Linked DNA regions of Homo sapiens: region 1 is linked to region 2. Evidence: fine-mapped expression QTL. A gene starts in region 2. The other region holds a variant in brackets. All regions are shown on one strand. Distances are from middle to middle. Region 1 has its middle 21 kb from the start of LTBR. Region 2 holds the start of LTBR (lymphotoxin beta receptor).

The links. PIP is the estimated chance that this variant, and not a neighbour inherited with it, causes the effect.
Region 1: its variant is fine-mapped to the expression of LTBR in synovium (Steinberg 2020, PIP 0.95).

The regions. Positions count from the first base shown.
Region 1 is chr12:6,396,731-6,412,655 of GRCh38, reverse strand. It overlaps the pseudogene RPL31P10. Among named protein-coding and RNA genes, the nearest start is that of LTBR, 21 kb to the right of the region's middle. The variant AG/G (reference allele first, on the strand shown) is at 8,149.
Region 2 is chr12:6,379,461-6,387,460 of GRCh38, reverse strand. It overlaps LTBR (lymphotoxin beta receptor), which reads right to left and starts at 3,299. Exons shown (of 10, transcript NM_002342.3): 1 at 3,007-3,299; 2 at 2,777-2,873; 3 at 2,314-2,439; 4 at 2,082-2,234; 5 at 1,299-1,395; 6 at 1,017-1,114. The coding sequence starts at 3,102. RefSeq lists an enhancer at 3,381-4,246.

The sequences.
Region 1 (15,925 bases), 21 kb before region 2:
TGAGACAGGAGAATTGCTTGAACCCAGGAGGCTGAGCTTGTAGTGAGCAGAGATCGTGCCACCACACTCCAGCCTGGGAGACAGAGTGAGACTCCATCTCAAAAAAAAAAAAAAAATCATCTATATGAGGAAAACTACAAAATTCTGATGAAAGAAATCAAAGAAAATAAATGGAAGGATATTCCATGTTCCTGGAGAAGAAGACTCAATATTGTCAAGATGTCAGTTCTTTCCAACTTGATCTATAGATTCAATGCAATCCCAGTAAAACTCTTAGCAAGCTATTTTATGGATATTGCCAAACTGATTATAGAGTTTATATGGAGAAGCAAAAGATCCAGAATAGCCAACACAATATTGAAGAAGTTCAAGACTAGCCTGGCCAACATATAGTGAAACCCAGTCTCTACTAAAAATACAAAATTAGCCAGGCGTGGTGGTGCACGCCTGTAATCCCAGCTACTTGGGAGGCTGAGGCAGGTGAATCACTTGAACCTGGGAGGCGGAGATTGCCGTGAGCCGAGATCGAGGCATTGCACTCCAGCATGGGCAACAGAGCGAGACTCCATCTTAAAAAAAAAAAAAACATATCTGAACATTTCCTTTCCCTGCTTAAAGTCCTTTAGTGGACTTCTGGTCCAAACTGAAACGATGGCAAGAGTGTTGCTCCCAGCTATGCAACAAGAAAAGAGCTGGAAAAGCTGCACATGAATGACTTTTCTGGATCTCCTAAGAGAATTGAGGTCACAGGGCAGACAACCTGAAACCGAGAGAGAGACAGGTACCTACAGGGGGAAACAGTACCTGAGCATTCCTTACTTAAGTAAGAAAATTAAGCTGGACATTTTTAACAATTAATAGTGGCCTACTGTTGGTGATTAAGAGAGTATGAAGTCCCTGGAAGCTGCAGACAAAGGGAGTCTTGCGCTTTCTTTCAGGCTTTTCTTTCAGGACCCCCATCAATCACCCACAGGAAGATAGGTGAAATGGGAGAATTCTGACACCCTCTGCTCCATGGTGCTTGCTGGGGGTGGGGAACGGAACAGCAGCTATGGCCAAGACTCCATTCCTTTAGGACAAGACTTCATCTGCAAGGGGAAGGTCATAAAAACTTACAGGCAGGCCGGATGCTGTGGCTCATGCCTATAATCCCAGCACTTTGGGAGGCTGAGGTGGGTGGGTCACTTGAAGTCAGGAGTTTGAGACCAGCCTGGCCAACGTGGCGAAACCCCATCTCTACTAAAAATACAAAAATTAGCCAGGTGGTGGGCACCTGTAATCCCAGCTACTTAGGAGGCTGAGGCAGGAGAATCGCTTCAACCCATCACGCAGAGGTTGTAGTGAGCCAACATCGCACCACTGCACTTCAGCCTGGGGGACAGAGTGAGACTCTGTCTCAAAAAAACAGAAAACACAAAACTTATGGGCAGAGGGCATTGGTGGAAACCCACTGAAATTAGGGGAAGGGAACAGGGGAAAAAAGAAGAAGTTCTTCCTTTTAGTGAGGACCGGAATAATTGCCAGGCCAACCATTATACCTGGAGGAAGGGCAATTATGAAGGCCACACTCCCAAGATCCAGGTTCATAGTGCCTACCTAAGGCTGAGCCTCAATCATAACACAAGGGAACACATAACCTCCTTCATAGCCTACCACCACATGACAGGCCTCCAGTGAAAAATAATACAAGAATGTATCTGGGAGAACTTGCAAGAGACAGACTTTATTTAGGGAACAGTGCAAAAGGAAGATACAAATCCAAGAGACAAAAACAAGGCACCACTAGAGGAATTTTAAGCCCCTGATGCACTGAGGATAATAATATATGTTGGTGCAAAAGCAAACTTCAAACCCAGCCCTCCTGACTACATTAATGGAAATCTCTATACTAGAGAAGTAGCAGAAAGAAATGAATGCTTATCTTCAAGAATACAAAATATTTATGTCAGTATCTGTTGTGTTATACAGCATATCCAGCTTTCAATGAAAACCACAAGGTATACAAAAAGGAAAGAAAAAACACAATCTGGACTGGGCATGGTGGCTCACACCTGTAGTCTCAGTACTTAGGGAGGCCAAGGCAGGCGGATGACGAGGTCAGGAGTTCAAGATCAGCCTGGCCAGTATGGTGAAACCCCTCTCTACAAATACAAAAATTAGCTAGGCATGGTAGCGCATGCCTGTCAACCCAGCTACTGGGGAGGCTGAGGCAGGAGAATTGCTTGAACCCAGGAAGCAGAGGTTGCAATGAACAGAGATCATGCCACTGCACTCCAACCTGGGTGACAGAGCAATACTCCGTTTCAAAAAAAAGAAAAAGACACAATCTAAAAAGACAAAAAAAAAAAATCAGAACCAGACTCAGATATGACATCAGACATGGAATTTAAAGTAACATGATTATGTTAAAGGATTTAATGGAAAAGGTAGACAACATGCCAAAAGAAGATGGATAAATTCAGCAGAGGAAACCATAAGAATAAAATGGAAATGCTTGAAATAAAATCGTGGTGACAGAAATGAAGAACACCTTTGACTGGTTCATCAGTAGACTCAGTATAGCTGAGAAAAGAATCAGTGACCTTGGGTGTAGAGGTCAATAGAAATTTCCCAAACTCCCTTTCCAACTTGGACATGGCAGAATGGCTCCCACAAAGAAGGGTGGCGAGAAGAAAAAGGGCCGTTCTGCCATCAACGAAGTGGTGACCCGAGAATACACCATCAACATTCACAAGCGCATTTGTGGAGTAGGCTTCAAGAAGCGTGCCCCTCGGGCACTCAAAGAGATTCGGAAATTTGCCATGAAGGAGATGGAAACTCCAGATGTGCGCATTGATACCAGGCTCAACAAAGCTGTCTGGGCCAAAGGAATAAGGAATGTCCGACACCGAATCCATGTGCGGCTGTCCAGAAAACGTAATGAGGATGAAGATTCACAAATAAGCTCTATACTTTGGTTACCTATGTATTTGCTACCACTTTCAAAAATCTACAGACAGTCAATGTGGATGAGAACTAATCGCTGATAGTCAAATACATCAAATAAAGTTATAAAATTGCAAAAAAATAAAGAGGAATTACCCAAACTGAAGTGCAAAAAAAGAGTGGGTAAAAAACAAAACAGAACAACAACAAAAAAGAAAGAAAGAAGACACCATCCAAGAATACCAAATGAGTTAACATGCCCATAATTGGAATTCCAGAAGGAGAAGAAAGACTTGGACAGGATTTGTCTAATCAGACTTAGTTAAACAAACAAACAAACGAACAAAAAGAATAAGACAGGAGAAACATTTGAAGAGATAATGGCTTAGAATTATCCAAAATTAGTAACAGACAGAAAAGCACAGATCAAGGAAGCTCAGAGAACACCAAGCAGGATAAATACCAAAACAACACAGCCCCTCACCAAACCCATGCATCTAGGCATATCATATTAAAACTGCTGAAAACCAAAGAGAAAGAAAATCTGGAAGTCAGCCAAGGGGGAAAAAACATAATATCTTACCGAGGAGCGAGGATAAGAATTACAGCAGACTGCTAGTCAGAAACAATAAAAGCAAAATGAAATGGAGTAATATCTTTTTTTTTTTTTTTTTTGAGATGGAGTCTCGCTCCATCACTCAGGCTGGAGTGCAGTGGCATGATCTTGGCTCACTGCAACCTCCGCCTCCCGGGTTCAAGTGATTCTCCTGCCTCAGCTAGGTGCCTGCCATCATACCCAGCTAATTTTTGTATTTTTAGTAGAGACGGGTTTTCGCCATGTTGGCCAGGCTAGTCTCAAACTCCTGACTTCAGGTGATCCACCAACCTTGGCCTCCCAAAGTGCTAGGATTACAGGCGTGAGCCACTGTGCCTGGCCCAAATTAAGAGTTTTCTATTTTTATTTTTATTTTTTTAGAGACGGGGTCTCACTACGTTTCCCAGGATGGTCTGAAACTCCTGGACTCCAGTGATCCTCCCACCTCAGCCTCCCAAAATGCTGGGATTACAAGCATTAGCAACTACACCAGGCCAAAATTAAAAGTTTATCAGACAAACAGAAACTGAGGAAGTTGATTGCCAGCAGACCTACTTTATAATAAATGTCAAAGCAAGTTCTCTAAGAAGAAGAGGCTGGGTGTGGTGGCTCACGCCTGTAATCCCAGCACTTTGGGGGGCCAAGGCGGGTGATCACTTGAGGTCAGGAGTTTGAGACCAGCCTGGCCAACATGGTGAAACCCTGTCTCTACTAAAAACACAAAAATTATCTGGGCGTGGTGGTGGGCGCCTGTAGTCCCAGCTACTCAAGTGGCTGAGGCAGGAGAATTGCTTGAACCCGGGAGGCGGAGGTCGCAGGGAGCCGAGATTGTGTCAGCCTGGGTTGAACAGAGTGAAACTTCGTCTCAAAAAAGAAAGAAGAAGAAGAAATATAATCAAAATCTTGGATCTATACAAAGAAACAACGTACTGTAGTTTATAGAATACCATTTACAATAGCAGCCCCCATGAAGTTTTTAGGTATAAATATAACAAAATACGTGGGAGATATGTGTGCTAAAAACTACAAAATACTGACGAAAGAAATCAACATGGGGCCGGGCATGGTGGCTCCTGCCTGTAATCCCAGCACTTTGGGAGGCCGAGGCGGGCGGATCACTTGCGGTCAGGAGTTCAAGACCAGTCTGGCCAACATGGTGAAACCCCGTCTCTACTAAAAATACAAAAATTAGCCCAGTGTGTTGGCACACGCCTGTAATCCCAGCTACTTGGGAGGCTGAAGCAAGAGAATTGCTTGACCCCAGGAGGCGGAGGAGGCGGTGAGCCAAGACTGCACCACTGCACTCCAGCCTGGGCGATGGAGATTCCGTCTCAAGAAATAAATAAATAAATAAATAAATAAATAAATAAATAAAAGAGAAAGAAAGAAAAGAAAAACTGAATGCTACAAGTTCAGCCCATTACTAACCAGTTCCAGACAAATTGGCTTTTTTCTTTTTTCTTCTTATTTTCCTCTGGCTTTTCCCCTCATTTTAAAAATGGAGAGGTAATCGTGCCTCTCATGAGCGAATAGTTTTAGTATGCTTAGAACACTGTCCTGTACATAGTAAGCATTCAACATATGTTGGCTAATACTACTGAAGCCAATTGTAACAGTAGTATTAGAAGCCGTAATAATATTACCCCAGTCAAATATGTCCATAATTGGCAATAGGGAAAGAATTGCTGCCACTCAGCAGTATTTGGAGTATTGAATGTCATTGTTTACTTTTTCTGGAAGGAGCGTGACCTAAGACACTGATCTAAACTGAATGTGCATGGCTAATGGTGTGGATAGACAGAGATTTTAAGTGGGCAAAAGTGAAGGTTGTGTTGACAAGAAGTTTCAGGAAACAGTGATGTGGATGAATTTCCCAGAACGGTCCCAGAATATGAGAATAATGTCCCACGTGAATGCTAATCGAAATTCCCACTCTTCAGAGGAGGCTATCAGCAATCAGGTACACATCAACCATATGGCTGTCATGTAGTCTCTTCGTATCACCCCACTTACTGCCCAAGTGATTTATTTGTAAACAATGTGGCCAGCGTGGTGGCTCACGCCTATAATGCCAGCACTTTGGGAGGCCGAGGTGGGTGGATCATCTGAGGTCAGGAGTTTGAGACCAGCCTGGCCAACATGGTGAAACCCCATCTCTACTAAGAATACAAATATTAGCCGGGCCTGGTGGCGGGTGACTGCAATCCCAGCTACTCGGGAGGCTGAGGCAGGAGAATCACTTGAACCTGGGAGGTGGAGGTTGTAGTGAGCTGAGATCACGCCATTGCACTCCAGCCTGGGTGACGGAGTGAGACTCTATCTCAAAAAAAAAAAAAAAAAATGTGACTAGGGTGGCAGGCAGTGGTAGAGGTTATACTTGAGCTCTATAGTATAGACTTAGCTCACCAAGGCTGACCTCTGGATGCTGATGCTGCTAAGTGTCCCATATGTCAGGGGAAGTATTCTTGTATTCTTGCAAGTATTTTGTCATGGATGGGGCAGGGATTTGTCTTCACTGAGATAAACACTTACTCTAGATTTGGATATGCTTCACTTACATGCTATTGCTAGCAGGACCATCAATGAACTTACTGAACACTTCATACCTCATATCTCACAACGTCTTTTTGGACCCATTTCTATAAGTTATACAAAAAGGGTAAGGTAATGCATGGATGACCATGGGACTCAGTAGTTCTAATGTGTACCACATTCCTTATAAGTAGAAATCTCAATTTTTGGAAGCCTCAGTTAAAGTGGCATGTAGTCATTTTGCACCCTCTTGGAGTACTGTTCAATTTTCGACATTGTATATGTGCTTAATAGTGACTAAGAATAGGCATAATTTCTTCTGTAGCCAAAATGCATTGGTTAAAGAAAGGAGAGGTAGGAGTGGAGTGGTGCCTCTCCTATTACACTTAACAGCCAACTCGAGAAAGTTATGCTTTTCATGTTTGCAACTCAGGGCTCTCTGCTGCCTTGAGTTGTTTTAGAACTCCTTGTTTTAGAAAAGGAGGAGTACATGCTGCCACCAGTCGTCACGGAGATGCCTCTGTTTATCGATTTACTAAAAAGGATTTATTTTTGTATGACGTTTAAAGCAGTTTAAATTACATTCATTTGCTGACTTAGAGAACTGTGGGAAGTCTTGACTTATGGGAGTTGGGCTTTTGGACTTCTCCTCTGTTTGCCAGTTTTCTTTTTGTTTCTGTCTCCCCTTTTCTTTCCCCCGTCTGTCTTGGGCTATCTCTTTTTAGGCGCATAGGCAAGGAGCTGTGACCGACAATTTGAATGTTTTTAAAAATACTCTCATAAAAAACACACCTTTGGCCGGGCGCGGTGGCTCACGCCTGTAATCCCAGCACTTTGGCAGGCTGAGGCAGGCGGATCACAGGAGGTCAGGAGTTTGAGACCAGCCTGGCCAACATGGTGAAACCCGGTCTTTACTAAAAATACAAAAATTAGCAGGGCGTGGTGGAGCGCGCCTGTAGTCCCAGCTACTCGGGAGGCTGGGGCAGGAGAATTGCTTGAATCTGGGAGGTGGAGGATGCAGTGAGCCGAGATTGCGCCATTGCACTCCAGCCTGGGAGACAGAGTGAGACTCTGTCTCAAAAAAAAAGAAAACAAAACATTTTTTTCTGCAATACTTTTCAAAGAATGGTTTAAAAGCAATGACAATCCATGATCAGTGAGAATTTTCACTCAGATTATGGTCTCTCAATTCCTTTTTCAAAGAGCAGACAGGCTACTTGGAGACTTGGGTAAATTTATGGATTATAATAGATTTAAGAGGAACAGCCATCAGATGCCATATTTGGAGCTGGTGGGACCTCATTCAGACAAAATCAGTATAAAAAATATTTCAGACAATTCAGGATTTCCTTTCTTTAAGGGCTAGGTATTGGATAATGTTATAAGTCATTTTTAAAATTTTCTTAGGTGTGAAATCTTAGTGTATTTTCTCTATATTCATATCTGTTAGGATGTTTGTGAAAATATTCATGATTAAAATCACATTTTTGAGATTTCATGTTTGGGATATTTTTTAGACTCCCTCATCCACCATTGTGGGTGCAGATAATGAAACAAAATGGCAAGTTGTTGGTAATTTTTGAAGCACGTGTGACGAGCCCTGGGAAGTGCAGTATTCTCTATATTTTTGTGTCTACTTCAGTATGTCCATGACCACTCCCTTTCCCCTCCAAAAAAAAGTTAAAATTTAAAAAAAGCTGGCTAAATTAAAAAAAAGAAAAGAAAAAGGAAATCAACAAAGATATAAATAAATGATTAGGTGTAGGCTGGGTGGGGGCTGGGTGTGGGCTGGGTGTGGGCTGGGTGCACCTGTAATCCCAGTGCTTTGGGAGGTTGAGGCAGGGGGATCACTTGAGGCCAGAAGTTCGAGACCAGCTTGGACGACACAGAAAGACGCAGTCTCTACACAAAATAAAAAATTACTCAGGCATGGTGGCATGTGCCTGTACTCTCGGCTACTTAGGAGACTGAGGTGGGAAGATCACTTGAGCACAGGAGTTCAAGGTTGCAGTGAGCTATGATTGCACCACTGCACTCTAGCCTGCACTCTAGTCTGGGTGACAGAGTGATACCTCGCCTCAAAAAAAAAAAAAAAA[AG/G]GTATAAATAAATAGAAAGATATACTGTATTCATAGATTAGAAAATTCAATATTGTAAATATGTTAATTCTCCCCAGTTTGATCTATAGATTCAATGCATTATCAATCAAAATCATAGGAAGCTTTTTTTTGATAGAAATTGACAAACTGATTCTAAAATTTATATGAAAAGGGAAAGAAATGAAAAGGAACTAAAAAAATAGTAGGAGAAATTACTCTACCACTTATTAGACTTATTAGAAAGCAATTAGTGTGGTATTAGCGAAAGAGTAGACAACTTAGGTGAATAGAGCCAATAGAGAGACCAGAAATAAACCCACACAAATAATGTCAACTGATTTTTGACAAAGATGCAAAGGCAATCCAGTGGTGAAAGAACAGTCTTTTCAACAAACAGTGCTGGAAAAATTAGACATTCATATGTAAAAACAAAACCAAAAAACCTCAACACGTACCTCACACTTACACCAAAAAATGGCTCATAAACTTAAATGTAGAAAGTAAGACATCTAGAAAAAAGCACAGGAGACCCTGTGTGTGTGTAACCTTAGGTTTGGTGATAAGTTTTCTGGTACTGGAAACACAATTCATAAAGAAAAAAATGATGAATTGTACCTTATCACAAATAAAAACTTTTGTTCTGTGAAAGATAGGTTGAGAAAATGAATAGACAATCCACAGCCTGGGAGAAAATATTTGCAAATAATGTATCTGATAAAGGACTTCTATCCAGAATAAATAATTCTTCTTTTTCTTTCTTTCTTTCTTTCTTTTTTTTTTTTTTTGAGACAGAATCTCACTCTGTCACCCAAGCTGGAGTGCAGTGGCGTGATCTTGGCTTACGGCAACCTCTGCCTCCCGTGTTCAAGCGATTCTCCTGCCTCAGCCTCCTGAGTAGCTGGGATTATTACAGGCACGTGCCACCACACCTGGCTAATTTTTGTATTTTGCGTTTTTTTTTTTTTTTTTGAGATGGAGTTTTGCTCTTGTTGCCAAGGCTGGATTGCAATGGCACGATCTCGGCTCACCACAACATGTGCCTCCCCGGTTAAAGTGATTCTCCTGCCTCAGCCTCCCGAGTAGCTGGGATTACAAGCATGCTCCACCATGCCCGGTTAATTTTGTATTTTTAGTAGAGACGGGCTTTCTCCATGTTGGTCAGGCTGGTCTTGAACTCCTGACCTCAGATGATCCGCCCACCTCGGCCTCCCAAAGTGCTGGGATTACAGGCGTGAGCCACCATGCCCGGCCTAATGTTTGTATTTTTAGTAGAGATGGGGTTTCGCCATGTTGGTCACACTGGTCTCGAACTCCTGACCTCAAGCGATTCAGCCGCCTAGGGCTTCCAAAGTGCTGAGATTATAGGCGTGAGCCACTGCACACTGCCGAATGATCCAATTTAATAACAAGCAAAATATCTAAAGAGACACTTCAGAAAATAAAATACCTGGATGGCAAATAAGCATATGAAAGTTGGTTAACAGCATTTGTCATTAGAGAAATGAAAATTAAAACCACAATGAGGTACCACTGCTCACCTACTACAATTTCTAAAACACTGCCACCAACCACCAAATGCTGGTCTTACTAGAATTTCTAAAACACTGCCACCAACCACCAAATGCTGGTCTTACTAGAATTTCTAACACACTGCCACCAACCACCAAATGCTAGTCGTGCTACAATTTCTAAAACACTGCCACCAACCACCAAATGCTGGTCTTACTACAATTTCTAAAACACTGCCACCAACCACCAAATACTGGTCTTACCAGAATTTCTAAAACACTGCCACCATCATCACGAGGTCAGGAGATTGAGACCATCCTGGCTAACATGGTTAAACCCCACCTCTATTAAAAATAAAAAAAATTAGCTGGGTGTGGTGATGGGCGCCTATAGTCCCAGCTACTCAGGAGGCTGAGGCAGGAGAATGGCGTGAACCCGGGAGGCGGAGCTTGCAGTGAGCCGAGATCGCGCCACTGCACTCCAGCCTGGGTGACAGAGCAAGACTCCGTCTCAAAAAAATAAATAAATAAAATAAATAAAAATAAAAAATAAAAAAAAACACTGCCACCATCACCAAATGCTGGTCCTACTAGAATTTCTAAAACACTGCCACCAACCACCAAATGCTGGTCTTACTAGAATTTCTAAAACTGCCACCAACCACCAAATGCTGGTCTTACTAGAATTTCTAAAACACTGCCACCATCACCAAATGCTGGTCTTACTAGAATTTCTAAAACACTGCCACCATCACCAAATGCGGGTGAAGATGTGCAACAGGAACTCTCATTCATTGCTTTTGGGAATGCAAAATGATATAGTCACTTTGGAGACAGGTTGGCAGTTGCTTTTTCCTTTTTCTTTTCTTTTTTTTTTTCACTTTGTGAGACAGTCTCGCTCTGTCTCCCAGGCTGGAGTGCAGGGTGGGATCACATCTCACTGCAGCCTCGACCTCCCGGGCTCTAGAAATCCTTTCACCTCAGCCCCTCAAGTAGGTGGGACTAGAAGCACACATCAGCACACCAGGCTAATTTTTGTATTTTTTTTTGTGAGACAGGGTTTAGCCATGTTGCCTAGGCTAGTCTCGAGCTTGTGGACTTAAGCGATCTGCCTGTCTCAGCATAAGGAAAGACAGAAACTGTCACAGATCAGAGAAGACTAAATATTAAGGGATCATAATCACTAAGTGCAATGTGGTATCCTGGATTGGATTCTGGAACAGAAAAAGGATTTAAGGAAAAAAACTGGTGAAATCTAAATAAAATCTGTAGTTTAGTTGATATGTTAATTTCTTAATTAGTTTTGACAAATGTATCATGGCTATGTGAGATATTAACATTAAGGGCAGCTGGGTGAAAGGTATACCAAAACCCTCTGTACTATCTTTGCAACTTTTCTGTAATTCTAAAATTTTTCCAAACTAAAAACTCATTAAGAAAAAAAACCCAAATGAGCCAGGCGTGATGGTTCATGTCTGTAATCCCAGCACTTCGGGAGGCCGAAATGGGCAGATGGCTTGAGGCCAGGAGTTCAAGGCCAGCTTGGCCAACATGGCGAAACCCCGTCGCTACTAAAAATACAAAAATTAGCCAGGTGAGTGGGCGCCTGTAATCCCAGCTACTCGGGAGGCTGAGGCAGGAGAATCGCTTGAACCTGGGAGGCAGAGGTTGCAGTGAGCCAGGATAGCACCGCTGCACTCCAGCCTGAGCGACAAGAGGGAGACTCCATCTTAAAAACAAACAAACAAACAAATACTAACTGATGGGGATATAAGTCAAAATAGGAAAGTGGATATCTCTGGGATGTCATATGTCTGCCAGAATATAAACTGGAACTCAAGCAGTAAGCATGACTGAGTGGAAAGTGGCATGAAGTTATCTTCTAAGGAAGTAAAATGTTGCATATCTTCTGTGATGGTAACATGGGTATATACCTATGTAACACTTCTTCAGGCTATACACTTAAGATTAATATACTTTATATACTTTACAGGCCGGGTGAAGTGGCTCATGACTGTAATCCAAGTACTTTGGGAGGCCAAGGCAGGTGGATCACTTGAGGTCAGGAGTTCGAGACCAGCCTGGCCAACATGGTGAAACCCCATCACTACTAATAATACAAAAATTAGCCAGGTGTGGTGGTGCACGCCTGTAGTCCCAGCTACTAGGGAAGCTGAGACAGGAGAATCTCTTGAACCTGGGAGGCAGAGGTTGCAGTGAGCCGAGATTATGCCACTGCACTTCAGCCTGGGCAACAGAGTGAAAAAAAAAATATATATACACACACACACACACACACACACACACATATTTTATATATATGTGTGTATATATACACTATATACACATATTTTATATGTATGTGTGTATATATACACACACACACACATATAACATATATATTTATATATATATACTTTACTACACTGGAAAAAAATTTTACTGGTTTCCTATTGCTCTTAGGGTAAAGTTCAAAATTGCTGTAGTCTGTAAGTCTGAATGACGTGTTACCCGCCTACTTCTCTAGCTTCATCTCTCTATTCCCAAGTTCCAGCCAAACTATTCTTCCTATCACAGGGCCTTTGCACGTACCATTTAACCCACCAGCAGAGCTCTCCTCTCCAACACCCCTTCAATTTGGCTAGCCCTTATTTATTCTTCAGGTTGTATCTTAAATTTCCTCAGGGAGGAATTTCCTCATCTCCAGACCTAGAATCGGTCACTGGTTATATGTTGTGCTTCTCTTTTGTAGCACTTGTCTACAAAAGCAATAATTGTGATTATTTTACAAGCTCCAGAAGTTTATGTATCAGGTCTGTCTCGTTGGCTGTTGTATCTTAAGATGACTAGTACATAGTAAATTCTCACTTAATGTTTACCAAATGTTAATTTGAATGTGAGGCTCAGATTAAACAAACTAATACCCAAGGCCATAAAATATGAGCTGGGACCCACGCCCACCAATAAATCCTGTTGACTCTATCTCTAAGGCATATCTCCAACCTTCCACCTTTCTCCATCTCCCTATTGCAGTAGCCTTTGATCTGGTCTTTCCGTTTCTATTATTTATTCATTATCCATTGGATTATTATGAAATAATAAGATATGGATACTTCCTTAGCATAATAAAATAAATATACGTATTTCAACTGCTGCTTAATGAGAAAATACTGGAAGTATTGCCCTTAAAATCAGGATTGAGACAGAGCTGTCCATTACTATTTACTATTGTTCTGGAGGTACTATGAGATGCATTTAGATGAGATTTAAAAATATTAGGGCCAGGCGCGGTGGCTCACGCCTGTAATCCCAGCACTTTGGGAGGCCAAGGTGGGCAGATTGCTTGAGCCTAGGAGTTCAATACCAGCCTGGGCAACATGGCAATAACTTGTTTCTAGAAAAATTATTATGAAATTAGCATTATTTGTAGGTGATAACCTAAGAAAATTAATTGAAAAACTGTTATAGGCCAGGTGCGGTGGCTCACACCTGTAATCCCAGCACTTTGGGAGGCCAAGGTGGGCAGATTGCTTGAGCCTAGGAGTTCGGTACCAGCCTGGGCAACATGGCAATAACTTGTTTCTAGAAAAATTACTATGAAATTAGCATTATTTGTAGGTGATAACCTAAGAAAATTAATTGAAAAACTGTTATAGGCCAGGTGTGGTGGCTCACACCTGTAATCCCAGCACTTTGGGAGGCCAAGGTGGGCAGATTGCTTGAGCCTAGGAGTTCGGTACCAGCCTGGGCAACATGGCAATAACTTGTTTCTAGAAAAATTATTACAAAATTAGCATTATTTGTAGGTGATAACCTAAGAAAATTAATTGAAAAACTGTTATAGGCCAGGCGCGGTGGCTCACGCCTGTAATCCCAGCACTTTGGGAGGTCGAGGTGGGCAGATCATAAGGTCAGGAGATCGAGACTATCCTGGCTAACACGGTGAAACCCCGTCTGTACTAAAAATACAAAAAATTAGGCGGGCGTGGTGGCGGGCGCCTGTAGTCTCAGCTACTAGGGAGGGTGAGGCAGGAGAATGGCGTGAACCCGGGAGGCGGAGCTTGCAGTGAGCTGAGATCACACCACTGCACTCCAGCCTGGGTGACAGAGTGAGACTCTGTCTCAGAAAAGAAACAAAAACAAAACAAAACAAAAAAACTATTATAGATCATGAGGGAATTCAGTAGGTGGCTGGGGAAAAAGAAAGAAAACAAAACTAAAAAATCCCATTTTTATAGCACTTATAAAGGTAAAACACCAAGGAATGACTATAATGAGAAATGCCCATATTAAGGAAACATTAAAATGCTACTGAGGACACAAAGAGGAGGGTATCAACAAATAGAAGGGTATATCATGTTCTTGAAAAGAAGACCCGGCCCGGCACGGTAGCTCATGCCTGTAATCCCAGCACTTTGGAAGGCTGAGGCAGGTGGATCACTTGAGGTCAGGAGTTCGAGACCAGCTTGGCCAATATGGTGAAACCCCATCTCTACTAAAAATACAAAAATTAGTCGGGCATGGTAGCATGCACCTGTAATCCCAGCTACTCAGGAGGCTGAGGCAGGAGAATCGCTTGAACCCGGGAGGCGGAGGTTGCAGTGAGCCGAGATCGCACCACTGCACTCCAGCCTGGGTGACAGAGCGAAACTCTGTCTCAAATTAAAAACAAACAAACAAACCCAACACACTAATTGATTTGTAAATTCAATACAATCTCAAAACACATCCTCAAAGGAGCCTTTCTTTTGGAGGGGGAGTGAACTAAATAAACAGGTCCTAAAATTCATGTGGAAAAGGAAGAAAATATAGTTAGAAAAATTCTTAAAAACAGAGAATAAAAGGAGCTACTGGCCCTAATAGATATTAAAATATAAAGCTAAAACAATTGAAAGACTGTAATGTTGGCAAATTGAAAAGACGGATCAATGAGAGAGAATTGAAAATCCAGAAGTAAATTCAAACTTGCACAAAAACTTGGCTTATCATAACAGTAGTTTTAAATTAGTGAAGAAAAAATTATTGTTCAATAGATGACTGGAGATAAAAAGATAACATTTGAAAACTAATAGAAATATAGGAGGCCAAGTGTGATGGCTCACACCTGTAATCCCAGCACTTTGAAGACTGAGGCAGAAGGAGCTCAGGAGTTTGAGACCAGCCTGGGCAACATGGTGAAACCTCATCTCTACAAAAAATTTAAAAAGTAACCTGGCGTGGTGGTGTGTGTCTGTAGTCCCAGCTACTGGAGAGAGGCTGAGGTGGGAGAATCACTTGAGCCTGGGAGGTGGAGGCTGCAGAGAGTTGTGATTGGGCCACTGCACTCCAGCCTGGGTGACAGAGCAAGACCCTGTCAAAAAAAAAAAAAAAAAGAAAAATAGAGATATGAACAGTCAGTAGAAAATAAATTACAACTGGCTCTTTAACATATGAAATGTTCACTCATATGAAATGAAATACTCATTCACAGTGAAGTGAAAAACTTCACTCGCAATAAGAAATCCAAATAAAAATTACACTGAGATAACTTTTTTTTTTCTATCTTTCAGTTTGGCAAAGATCAAAATATTTGATAACACATCAAAGTTGGTGTTTATGTAAGGAAATGGACACTTAAAAATTTCCGATGTTCGGCCGGGCACGGTGGCTCATGCCTGTAATCCCAGCACTTTGGGAGGCCGAGACGGGCGGATCACAAGGTCAGGAGATCAACACCATCCTGGCTAACACGGTGAAACCCTATCTCTACTAAAAATACAAAAAAATTAGCCGGGTGTGGTGGCAGGCGCCTGTAGTCCCAGCTACTCAGGAGACTGAGGCAGGAGAATGGCGTGAACCCGGGAGGCGGAGCTTGCAGTGAGCCCAGATTGCGCCACTGCACTCCAGCCTGGGTGACAGAGTGAGACTCCATCTCAAAAAAAAAAAAATTCCGATATTCCATCTCTATGGAAGACAAATTAGCAACATTTATCAAAACGAAATGTATGTACCTTTTAACCAGGAAATTTTATTTCCAGCAATTTTTTTTGTAGCAGTACTTCCACATGTGCAAAATGACATAGGTTATTACTGTAGTGTTGTCTGTAATAGTAAAGGTTGGAGATGAATTAAAAATTCTCAAAAGGGATCCAGTTAAATGGTACAGCCAGGTGATAGAATACCACACAGATAGAAAAATGAATGAGAACTTTTTTTGGTACTAATATGGTATTATGGCCAAGCTCTTTTAATAAATGAAAAAGGCAAGGGGAAGAACTTACAGAACATC
Region 2 (8,000 bases):
GAGGTTAGCTTACATACTCTCTAAAATTCCAGCTCTAAAATGCCAGTTGTATTTGATACATAGTTAAAAATTAACAGGGCACAGAAAAATACTTAGATTGTGGAATGAAAAAATCAGGTTACGAAATATTAAAATTACTTCACTTTTAGTAAACAACAACAAAACCCAGTATGTATAAACATGCATAGAAAATGTCCGGGAGGATATATACCACAATGTAACGAGTGGATATTCTAGGTAGTGGCTCTGTGGGTGAGTTTTTAGTTTTGCTTATCTGAAGTCTCTAATTTTCTATAGTGCATGCATTATGACATGGGCTCTGGAGTAAGAAAACCTGAGTACAGGTTCTAATAACACCAGTGACCACCTGTGTGGGTGATCTTGAGTATATCACTTAACCTCTTTGAGCCTCGGTTTCTTCCTTCAGTCCATGAGGATGATAATAGAATCTACTTCATAGCATCATTAAGAAGATTAAATGAGTTAGTAAATGTAAAGTGGTTACAGAGTGCCCAACACACACAGTGAACCTTCTGCCAATTAGTGATGTTACAGTCATTAGAAACAATAGTCATCTACTAGGCTAGCAAGCCAATCAGTCCACAGGAAACAGTCAAGAAAGAGTCAAATGGGAATCTTCTGTCTAATAATAAAAGTATATAGTCTAATAAAGAGGTGTTTGGTCTAGTTAATGGATTGTGTGAAAAAAAAAAACGGATTGTGTAATGTTGGTAAGCCCAAAATGATGACAATAGTAGTTATCATTACATCTCAGTGTGGGATGTGTTCCTTGACATAGTATTACAGTATATATAATTTTAAAAGTGTGTGTGTGTGTGTGTGTGTGTGTGTGTGTAAACTAGCCTAGAGATACTCCAATTTTTTCTGTAAGGAACTTTCTTCTTGCCCAATTCTGGGAGGGAAGTGTTCATCTTTTCCCCATTTTTTTTAAGATGTGGAGCATTAAGGCATTTTCAGAGGCGCCCCCCCCGTGTCCCTCAGCCCTGGTCCCTCACCTGACATCTCTGGGGGCAGTGGCTCTAATGGATTTTTGCAGGTTGTGTCGGACTGGGCAGTGCCTGGAGCTGCCTCCACCAGACCTTGGTTCTCACACCTGCAGAGGAAAAAAAGATGATGACCTTTTCACGCCCTGGCCCACCAGTGTCCCGACTCCACTGGGCAGGCGGGGAGGCTGAAAGTGGTGAGTCGAGTCCGTGGTGTCAAGGATAGGCGCTGGGGGTTGTTAGCAGCTGAGGCTTCTCAGAGGGTGGAAGGAGCTTGGGTGGGGCTGCACTCACCTGGTGTGGGGCTGGCAGCGGGCGCTGGGGGAGGAGGTATTCTGGAAGTGCCCGGCCTTGCAGGGGACGCAGTGGTTGTTACCCTTCCCAACTTCATCTGGCAAGAGAAAGGCAGGCCAGCCAGGGTGAATGGGCAAAAGGGAGGGGCCCTTTGCCGGCCTGTGAGTTTCCTTTAAGCCTCAGGATGCCCATCCACCCCATTGCGTAGCTCTCACCTTTCCCAAGCTCTGCTTTGCTGCCTTTTTTTTTTTTTTTTTTGAGACGGAGTCTTGCTCTGTCGCCCAGGCTGGAGTGCAGTGGCGCGATCTCGGCTCACTGCAAGCTCCGCCTCCCAAGTTCACGCCATTCTCCTGCCTCAGCCTCCCGAGTAGCTGGGATACAGGCGCCCACCACCACGCCCGGCTAATTTTTTGTATTTTTAGTAGAGACGGGGTTTCACTGTGTTAGCCAGGATGGTCTCGATCTCCTGACCTCGTGATCCGCCCACCTCGGCCTCCCAAAGTGCTGGGATTACAGGCGTGGGCCACCACACCCGGCCTACTGCCTACCATTTTGCCCAAGCTTCCCAGTACTGAGAAGAACCACCTCCTGTGTCCCCTGCACCTGTCCCAGTTCCATGTCCCTCCAGAACCCTTCTGTGAGCCTCTGCATGGAATGAGAAGAGGAATTTTAAGCCAAGGATCTGGGGGGTCGCCGTGGACACAGTACCATATTCCCTGCTCCCACTTGAGATCCCTGGCACCCAGCCTCCTTTTCACATCCAGCCCCTCAGGGACCTCTGACCTTTGAGCTCGGCTTCAGTGCCAGGCGGGCAGTCAGAAAGTAGCTCGCAGTGTGTACACTCGAGGGCCCAGGCAGCACAGAACATTCCCGGCTGGCAGCGGCACTGGGTCTTCCGTTTGCTTGTGCAGGGGGCAATCTCCTCGAGGCCCATCACTGGCGGGGAGACGGGAGGGCTCAGGGAGGGGCCAAGCTCCAGGGGATCCAGCCCCCCCGCAGGCACATCCCCACTCACCTGGGTCACAGGGGCGGCACAGCTGGCAGATGGTCAGGTAGTTCCAGTGCTCGTTGTAGGAATTCTCGGCACATGTGGCACAAACTGTGTCCCGGATGCGGCTACATTTAGCTGAGACATAGGTGCCTAGAACGTGAGTGGAGCAGTAGAGCCTCAGGAGACGAGGCTCCACCCTCACCTCCGCTGCCTGTAGTGTGACCCTGGCCTTTCCCTCGGTCTCTCTGGCCCCCCATCATCCTGCCAGTGGCCCTCCGGCTCCCTCTCAGTGAGGTAAGGAAAGAGGAGGCCCAGTGGGGAGGGCCAGTCCCATCTCCTCCACGTGATGTCCAGGGTTTCCCACGCTCGTCTCCAGCAGCCAGTTTTCCTGGGGGACAGTGCCCACCTTCCCTCTGAGGCCGCGAGGGGGCTGGAGCCCCCGTGACCCACTTCCGAGGCCCAGGTTCGTCCTGCCATTGCCTCTCACCTGGCGGGCAGCGGGAGCAGCAGATGCGGTGCTGGGGCTCATAGTATTCCTTTTCCTGGTCCCTGCAGGTCTGGTTCTCCGACGCATATGGAGGCACCTTCAAAGGGAGATGGAGAAGAGGAGAGAAGAATTAGTCAGGGGTCAGCTTGGGAGGGCAGAGGGAATGGAGCGACGGCTGCCCAGATCCCTCTTGCCCACCCTCGCCCACTCCTACCAGGCCCCTTCCTCACCGCCTGGGGCTGCGATGCTGCCAGGAGCCCGAAGAGGCCCAGCACCAGAGGCCCCCAGGCCAGGCCGGGGGCAGAGGTGGCCCAAGGCAGGAGCATGGCGGCCACTCGGCCAGGCGGCCAGCAACGTGGGGGCCTGGGAGGAAGGCAGGAGGCCCGACGTCCTGGGCAGCGGTGGCGGCGGCTGCCCGAGCCCAGAGCCTGGGACGGGACTCAGGGCCGATGTGCACCCCAGGGCCGGGAGCGGCCAGGCCGGGCCTCCAGGGCTCCCATGGCGGAGCTCAGGAAGTGGGAGTGGAGCGAGCTGGCCGCGGGGCGGGGACAGGGAGCGCTGGGAGCCAGGCCGGCCTGTCGCAATCGCAGCCCAGGGAAGAGGAACAGGCTTGTCTGCCTCGATGCGGGGCGGGAGGGGCGGCCGGGAAAGCACGTGAGGGCCGCGGGGCCGGAACCGGCCTCCTCCCTTCTTCGGAAGCCCGATCGGGAGAGCGGACTGCGGACAGCCCTGGCCCAGCCGAGGGAAGGGCGGCGGGCCCGGGGTCAGCCCTTGGACAAGCCTCGCAGGGAGAGCAGAGGGAGTTCCAGAGAGCGCAAGGGACAGCTGGGTGCGGGATCTGGAAAGCGAGGGGCCCAGGACGGGCAGTCATGGAGAGGGCAGGGCGCGGGGACTGCAAGGCCGCAGAAGCAGCTCTGAGACCGAGGAGAACCGGCTGGCAGATGCCCGGGTTCCTCCCCCGTTGTCCTGCCCTACTGTGGGAGTTTTTCAGACAAATTACAAGGGACTAGCAAATCAGCCAGCCCCCCACGCTACCAACCCAGCCCAATCCGCACAGGAGTGGGCACAGGTCACCTAGGAGACCCTTGAGAGCTGTGCAGCTTGCCCTGCTCCCTGTCCTCAGGGAACCTCCCTCCCAAAGAGAGGGGGAGGATATGCGGAGGGGAGTCCTGGGGCCAGCAGGCTGGACCTGGGCACTCAGTCCCTCTGCTCTGGCTTCTTTGCCCATGAACCTTCAAACCCCTTAGAACTGGAGAAAGCTGAGAGCCCACGCAGTCCAGCCCCCTCACCTTAAGCATGGAGAGGGAGGCTAAGGGTGATACATAAGGGAACCGGGATTCCAGGGTGGCCTGGTCTCGTTCCTGCCCTGTTTCATCCTCCCATCTCCCTCAACCCAACACCCCACCCACCCGTGGAGTTACTTGCAGCTGCCCCCTTTTACACGTGGTTCTCTGGTCCCCAAGTTTCCGTCTTCCTAACTCCCACCTGTCCTTGAGGCTTCACTGAGGCTCTGGAAGGCAACCTCTGCCCTAGGTTGCACAGTCCCCGTGAAGACTGCCCTCTGTACCTGGCTGTCTTGTTTGCTTCCCACCAGGCTGTGAGTGCCACCATGGCCCAGGCTGAATCTTCAAGTCTGTGTTCCCCATGCTTAGCAGAGTCTGGCACATACCATGTGCCCAATAGGTATTTATGGAATAAATGAGTGATGGCCACATCACAGAGCCAGTCCACCGCAGAGCCAGCTACAATCTGGGTCTCCTGATGTCTAGGTCCCAACTCATTCCAGCAGTCCTGCCAACTCCTTGTGGCTCAGGGATGTCTCCCTTGGGATGAGGGGCTAACCTCTCTTGAGATAGGTCACTTGGGCACTATCCCCCTCCCTGAAGGACTCTGTTCAGCACTCGTCCTTACACTGGTCTGTCTAACTTCAGGTCTGATGTCTGGACAGGTGCAGGTGATGGGAAGTGTGCATGGGGAGGAGAGGTCACAAAAGGGGGAAAGGACCTGCCTAGGCTGTAGGCATTTCACTCTGTGAGGCTCTCTCCCCTCACCTGGTGCAGGCAGCTCACCGTACAGATGGGCCAAAGATGGCTGGAAAGGGCAGAAGTATCAGAACAGCATGCACTGCGCGGGGCTGCTGAGCCTTCCAGGGCCCTAGCGCTGGGGGCTGGGATGAGAGTCCCTGCTGAGCTCTTAAACGCGTAAAGGAATGTGTGTGTAGCGACCCTAGGTCCTTTTTTCTCTCTCTTCTTTTTACTTTTTACTGTGGAAATTCCACATGCAAGATAATATACCAAAAGAGAAAAAGTAATATTGGGAGTCTCCCATATACTCCTTACCCAGCTTCAACTCACTGTCAGTTTCATTTATTCTGTATACCCCCTCCCCCACCAACGCACACACTCTTCAAATCCCTCATTATTATTTTGAAGTAAATCCCAGACATCATATCATTTCATTTGAAAATATTTCAGGATTTTACCCTAAAAGACAGGGACTCTTTCTCTATTCTATTTTTCTTTTTTTCCCCACCCTGTCTTATGCTGCTGAGACCCTTTCTTTTAATAGAGGTGTAACATATAATACAATGAAACCGTAAGGTACACTGATCTTACAGATACAGCTCAGAGAGTCTTCACTTTTGTGTATTCTTGCATATCCCCCAACTGGTCCAGAACACCTCTTCTCTTCTCTTCTTTTCTCTTTTCCTTTCCATACAGAGTCTCGCTTTGTCGCCCAGGCTGGAGTGCAGTGGTGCAATCTCGGCTCACTACAACCTCTGCCTCCCAGGTTCAAACAATTCTCTGCCTCAACCTCCCGAGTAGCTGGGATTACGGGCGCCTGCCACCATGCCTGGCTGATTTTTGTATTTTTAGTAGAGATGGGGTTTCGCCATGTTGACCAGGCTGGTCTTGAACTCCTGATGTTGTGATCCACCCGCCTTGGCCTCCCAAAGTGCTGGGATTACAGGCGTGAGCCACGGCACCCGGCCCCAGAATGTTCCTTGCACTACAAATGTTTGCTACATGCCCTTCCCAGTCAAAGCTTCCTGCTTCACAGGTAACCACTATGTCCAGACCCCTTTTAACCCCAGCTGGCTGGACTGTATGTTTCTTTCTGCTGCCAGCCGTAAGCTGGCGCTTCAGCCCTCATGGACTCTCTACACCCTAAGGAACGAGCCCTGAGATCTGGGTTTTGATCCTGGCCCCATCACTTTATCTCTGTGTGCCTCTTTATTGTGTCAGTCAGCTACTGGTTTGCTTGCAGGTCTGTGGGATGGAGGTGGGATGGGAGGAGTGAAGCAGCCAGGCTATTTCTCTCCTCTCTGCTTTCTGGCTTCACCTGCAGTTGGTTGTCTTCCTTCCTTCCCCACTTCCATAATCCCATCTCCTACCAGTAGTCCACACTATTTAGTTCCTGCCAAATGGCTCTGGAGGCTTCTTGGTCTTTGATGCTACATCACCCTGCCATCTTTCCAGGCCTAGAGATGGTAGCTGCTTCCCGCTCTGCTGTTTTCTGAGCTGCCTCCCATTGTCTTCTCAGCTCCTCCATCACCCATGTACCAGTTAGTTCTCTGTGTTAAACTTCTTCTGTTTGAAAGACTTAGAGTGTTTCTTGTTTCCCAGCTGGATCACGAAAGACAAATCTTACCAATAAATGGCTACTATAATGCCCAGCCATCCCCAGGAGGATAAAGGGAGACTCCAGGGGTGAGAAATCCACAGGTTCACCGCGGGCAGGGCATTGTCTTTACTCCTGTCCTTTTGTGTTTTTCACCAGAGCCTCCTGAGACTGATTTCCACTGGGCAACACCAGACCCAGACCGAGCACCCCAGGACGCCTAGAAGGTGTGTGAGGGTGGGACTCTTCTCCCAGGCCTTCTTCCGAAGGAGCTGCTGAGAGAGCCTTCTTTCCACAGGCCCATTAGGCATCCAGAAAGGGGGCTGATGGAAATGGATTCTTCTTCTTCTTCTTCTTCTTTTTTTTTTTTTTTTGAGACAGAGTCTCAGTCTGTCGCCCAGGCTGGAGTGCAATGGTGCAATCTCAGCTCACTGCAACCTCCGCCTCCCAGGTTCAAGTGATTTTCCTGGCCTCAGCCTCCCAAGTTGAGTAGCTGGGACTACAGGCATGCGCCAACAGGCCCGGCTAATTTTTGTATTTTTAGTAGAGATGGTGTTTTGCCATGTTGGCCACAGGCTGGTTTTGAATTCCTGGTCTCAAGTCATTTCGCCCACCTTAGCCTCCCAAAGTACTGGGATTACAGGCACGAGCCACTGTACCCGGCCAGGAATGGATTCTTCTAAATACTTTTTCTTTCTCTCTTCTTCTCCACTCTGCTCTTAGCTGACTAGTGCTCTTGGAAATGGTCTGGCAAACACCCAGAAGTGCATAACAGATGAGGGTTGTCCTTTTCCAGAGTATTTGCATTTTCAGTGGTGACAATGCCTTAACCCAGTCTTTTCAACGGGGGTGACTTTGCCCCCCAGAAGTCATTTGGCAATATTTGGAGATGTTTTGGTCACAATGACTCAGGAGGTGCTACTAGCATCTAATAGATGGAAGCCAGGGATGCTGCTGAACATCCTGCACAGGATTGTAGATAGGACAGAATCATCCTGTCCCACCACAAAGAATGATACAGCCGAAAATGTCAATAGTGCCAAGGTTGATAAACCCTGTCTTCAATCAAAGTGATAAACTTCTAGTAGTGAACTTCTTTTTTTGTTTTTTTTTTTGTTTTTTTTTTTTTTGAGACAGAGTCTTGCTTTGTCTCCCAGGCTGGAGTGCAGTGGCACGATCTTGGCTCACTCCAAGCTCCACCTCCCCGGTTTTATGCCATTCTCCTGCCTCAGCCTCCCGAGTAGCTGGGACTACAGGCGTGCACCACTTATGCCCAGCTAATTTTTTTTGTAATTTTAGTAGAGACGGGGTTTCACCATGTTAGCCAGGATGGCCTCGATCCCCTGACCTCATGATCCACCCGCCTCGGCCTCCCAAAGTGCTGGGATTACAGGCGTGAGCCACCATGCCCGGCCAACTTCTAGTAGTGAACTTCTAAGTAAACTGCCAGGGGACTAGATGAAGAGTGGCATTTTTCTGGTCCATCATTTTAAATGAAAGAGAAATCTGTACCACATAAGGGCAGCTGAAAGGACTGTTGTCTTCCACAGTGGGCAGCCCCCAGTGTGAAGTGGCTAATTAGCTCCAAGTAGTAAGAATAAAG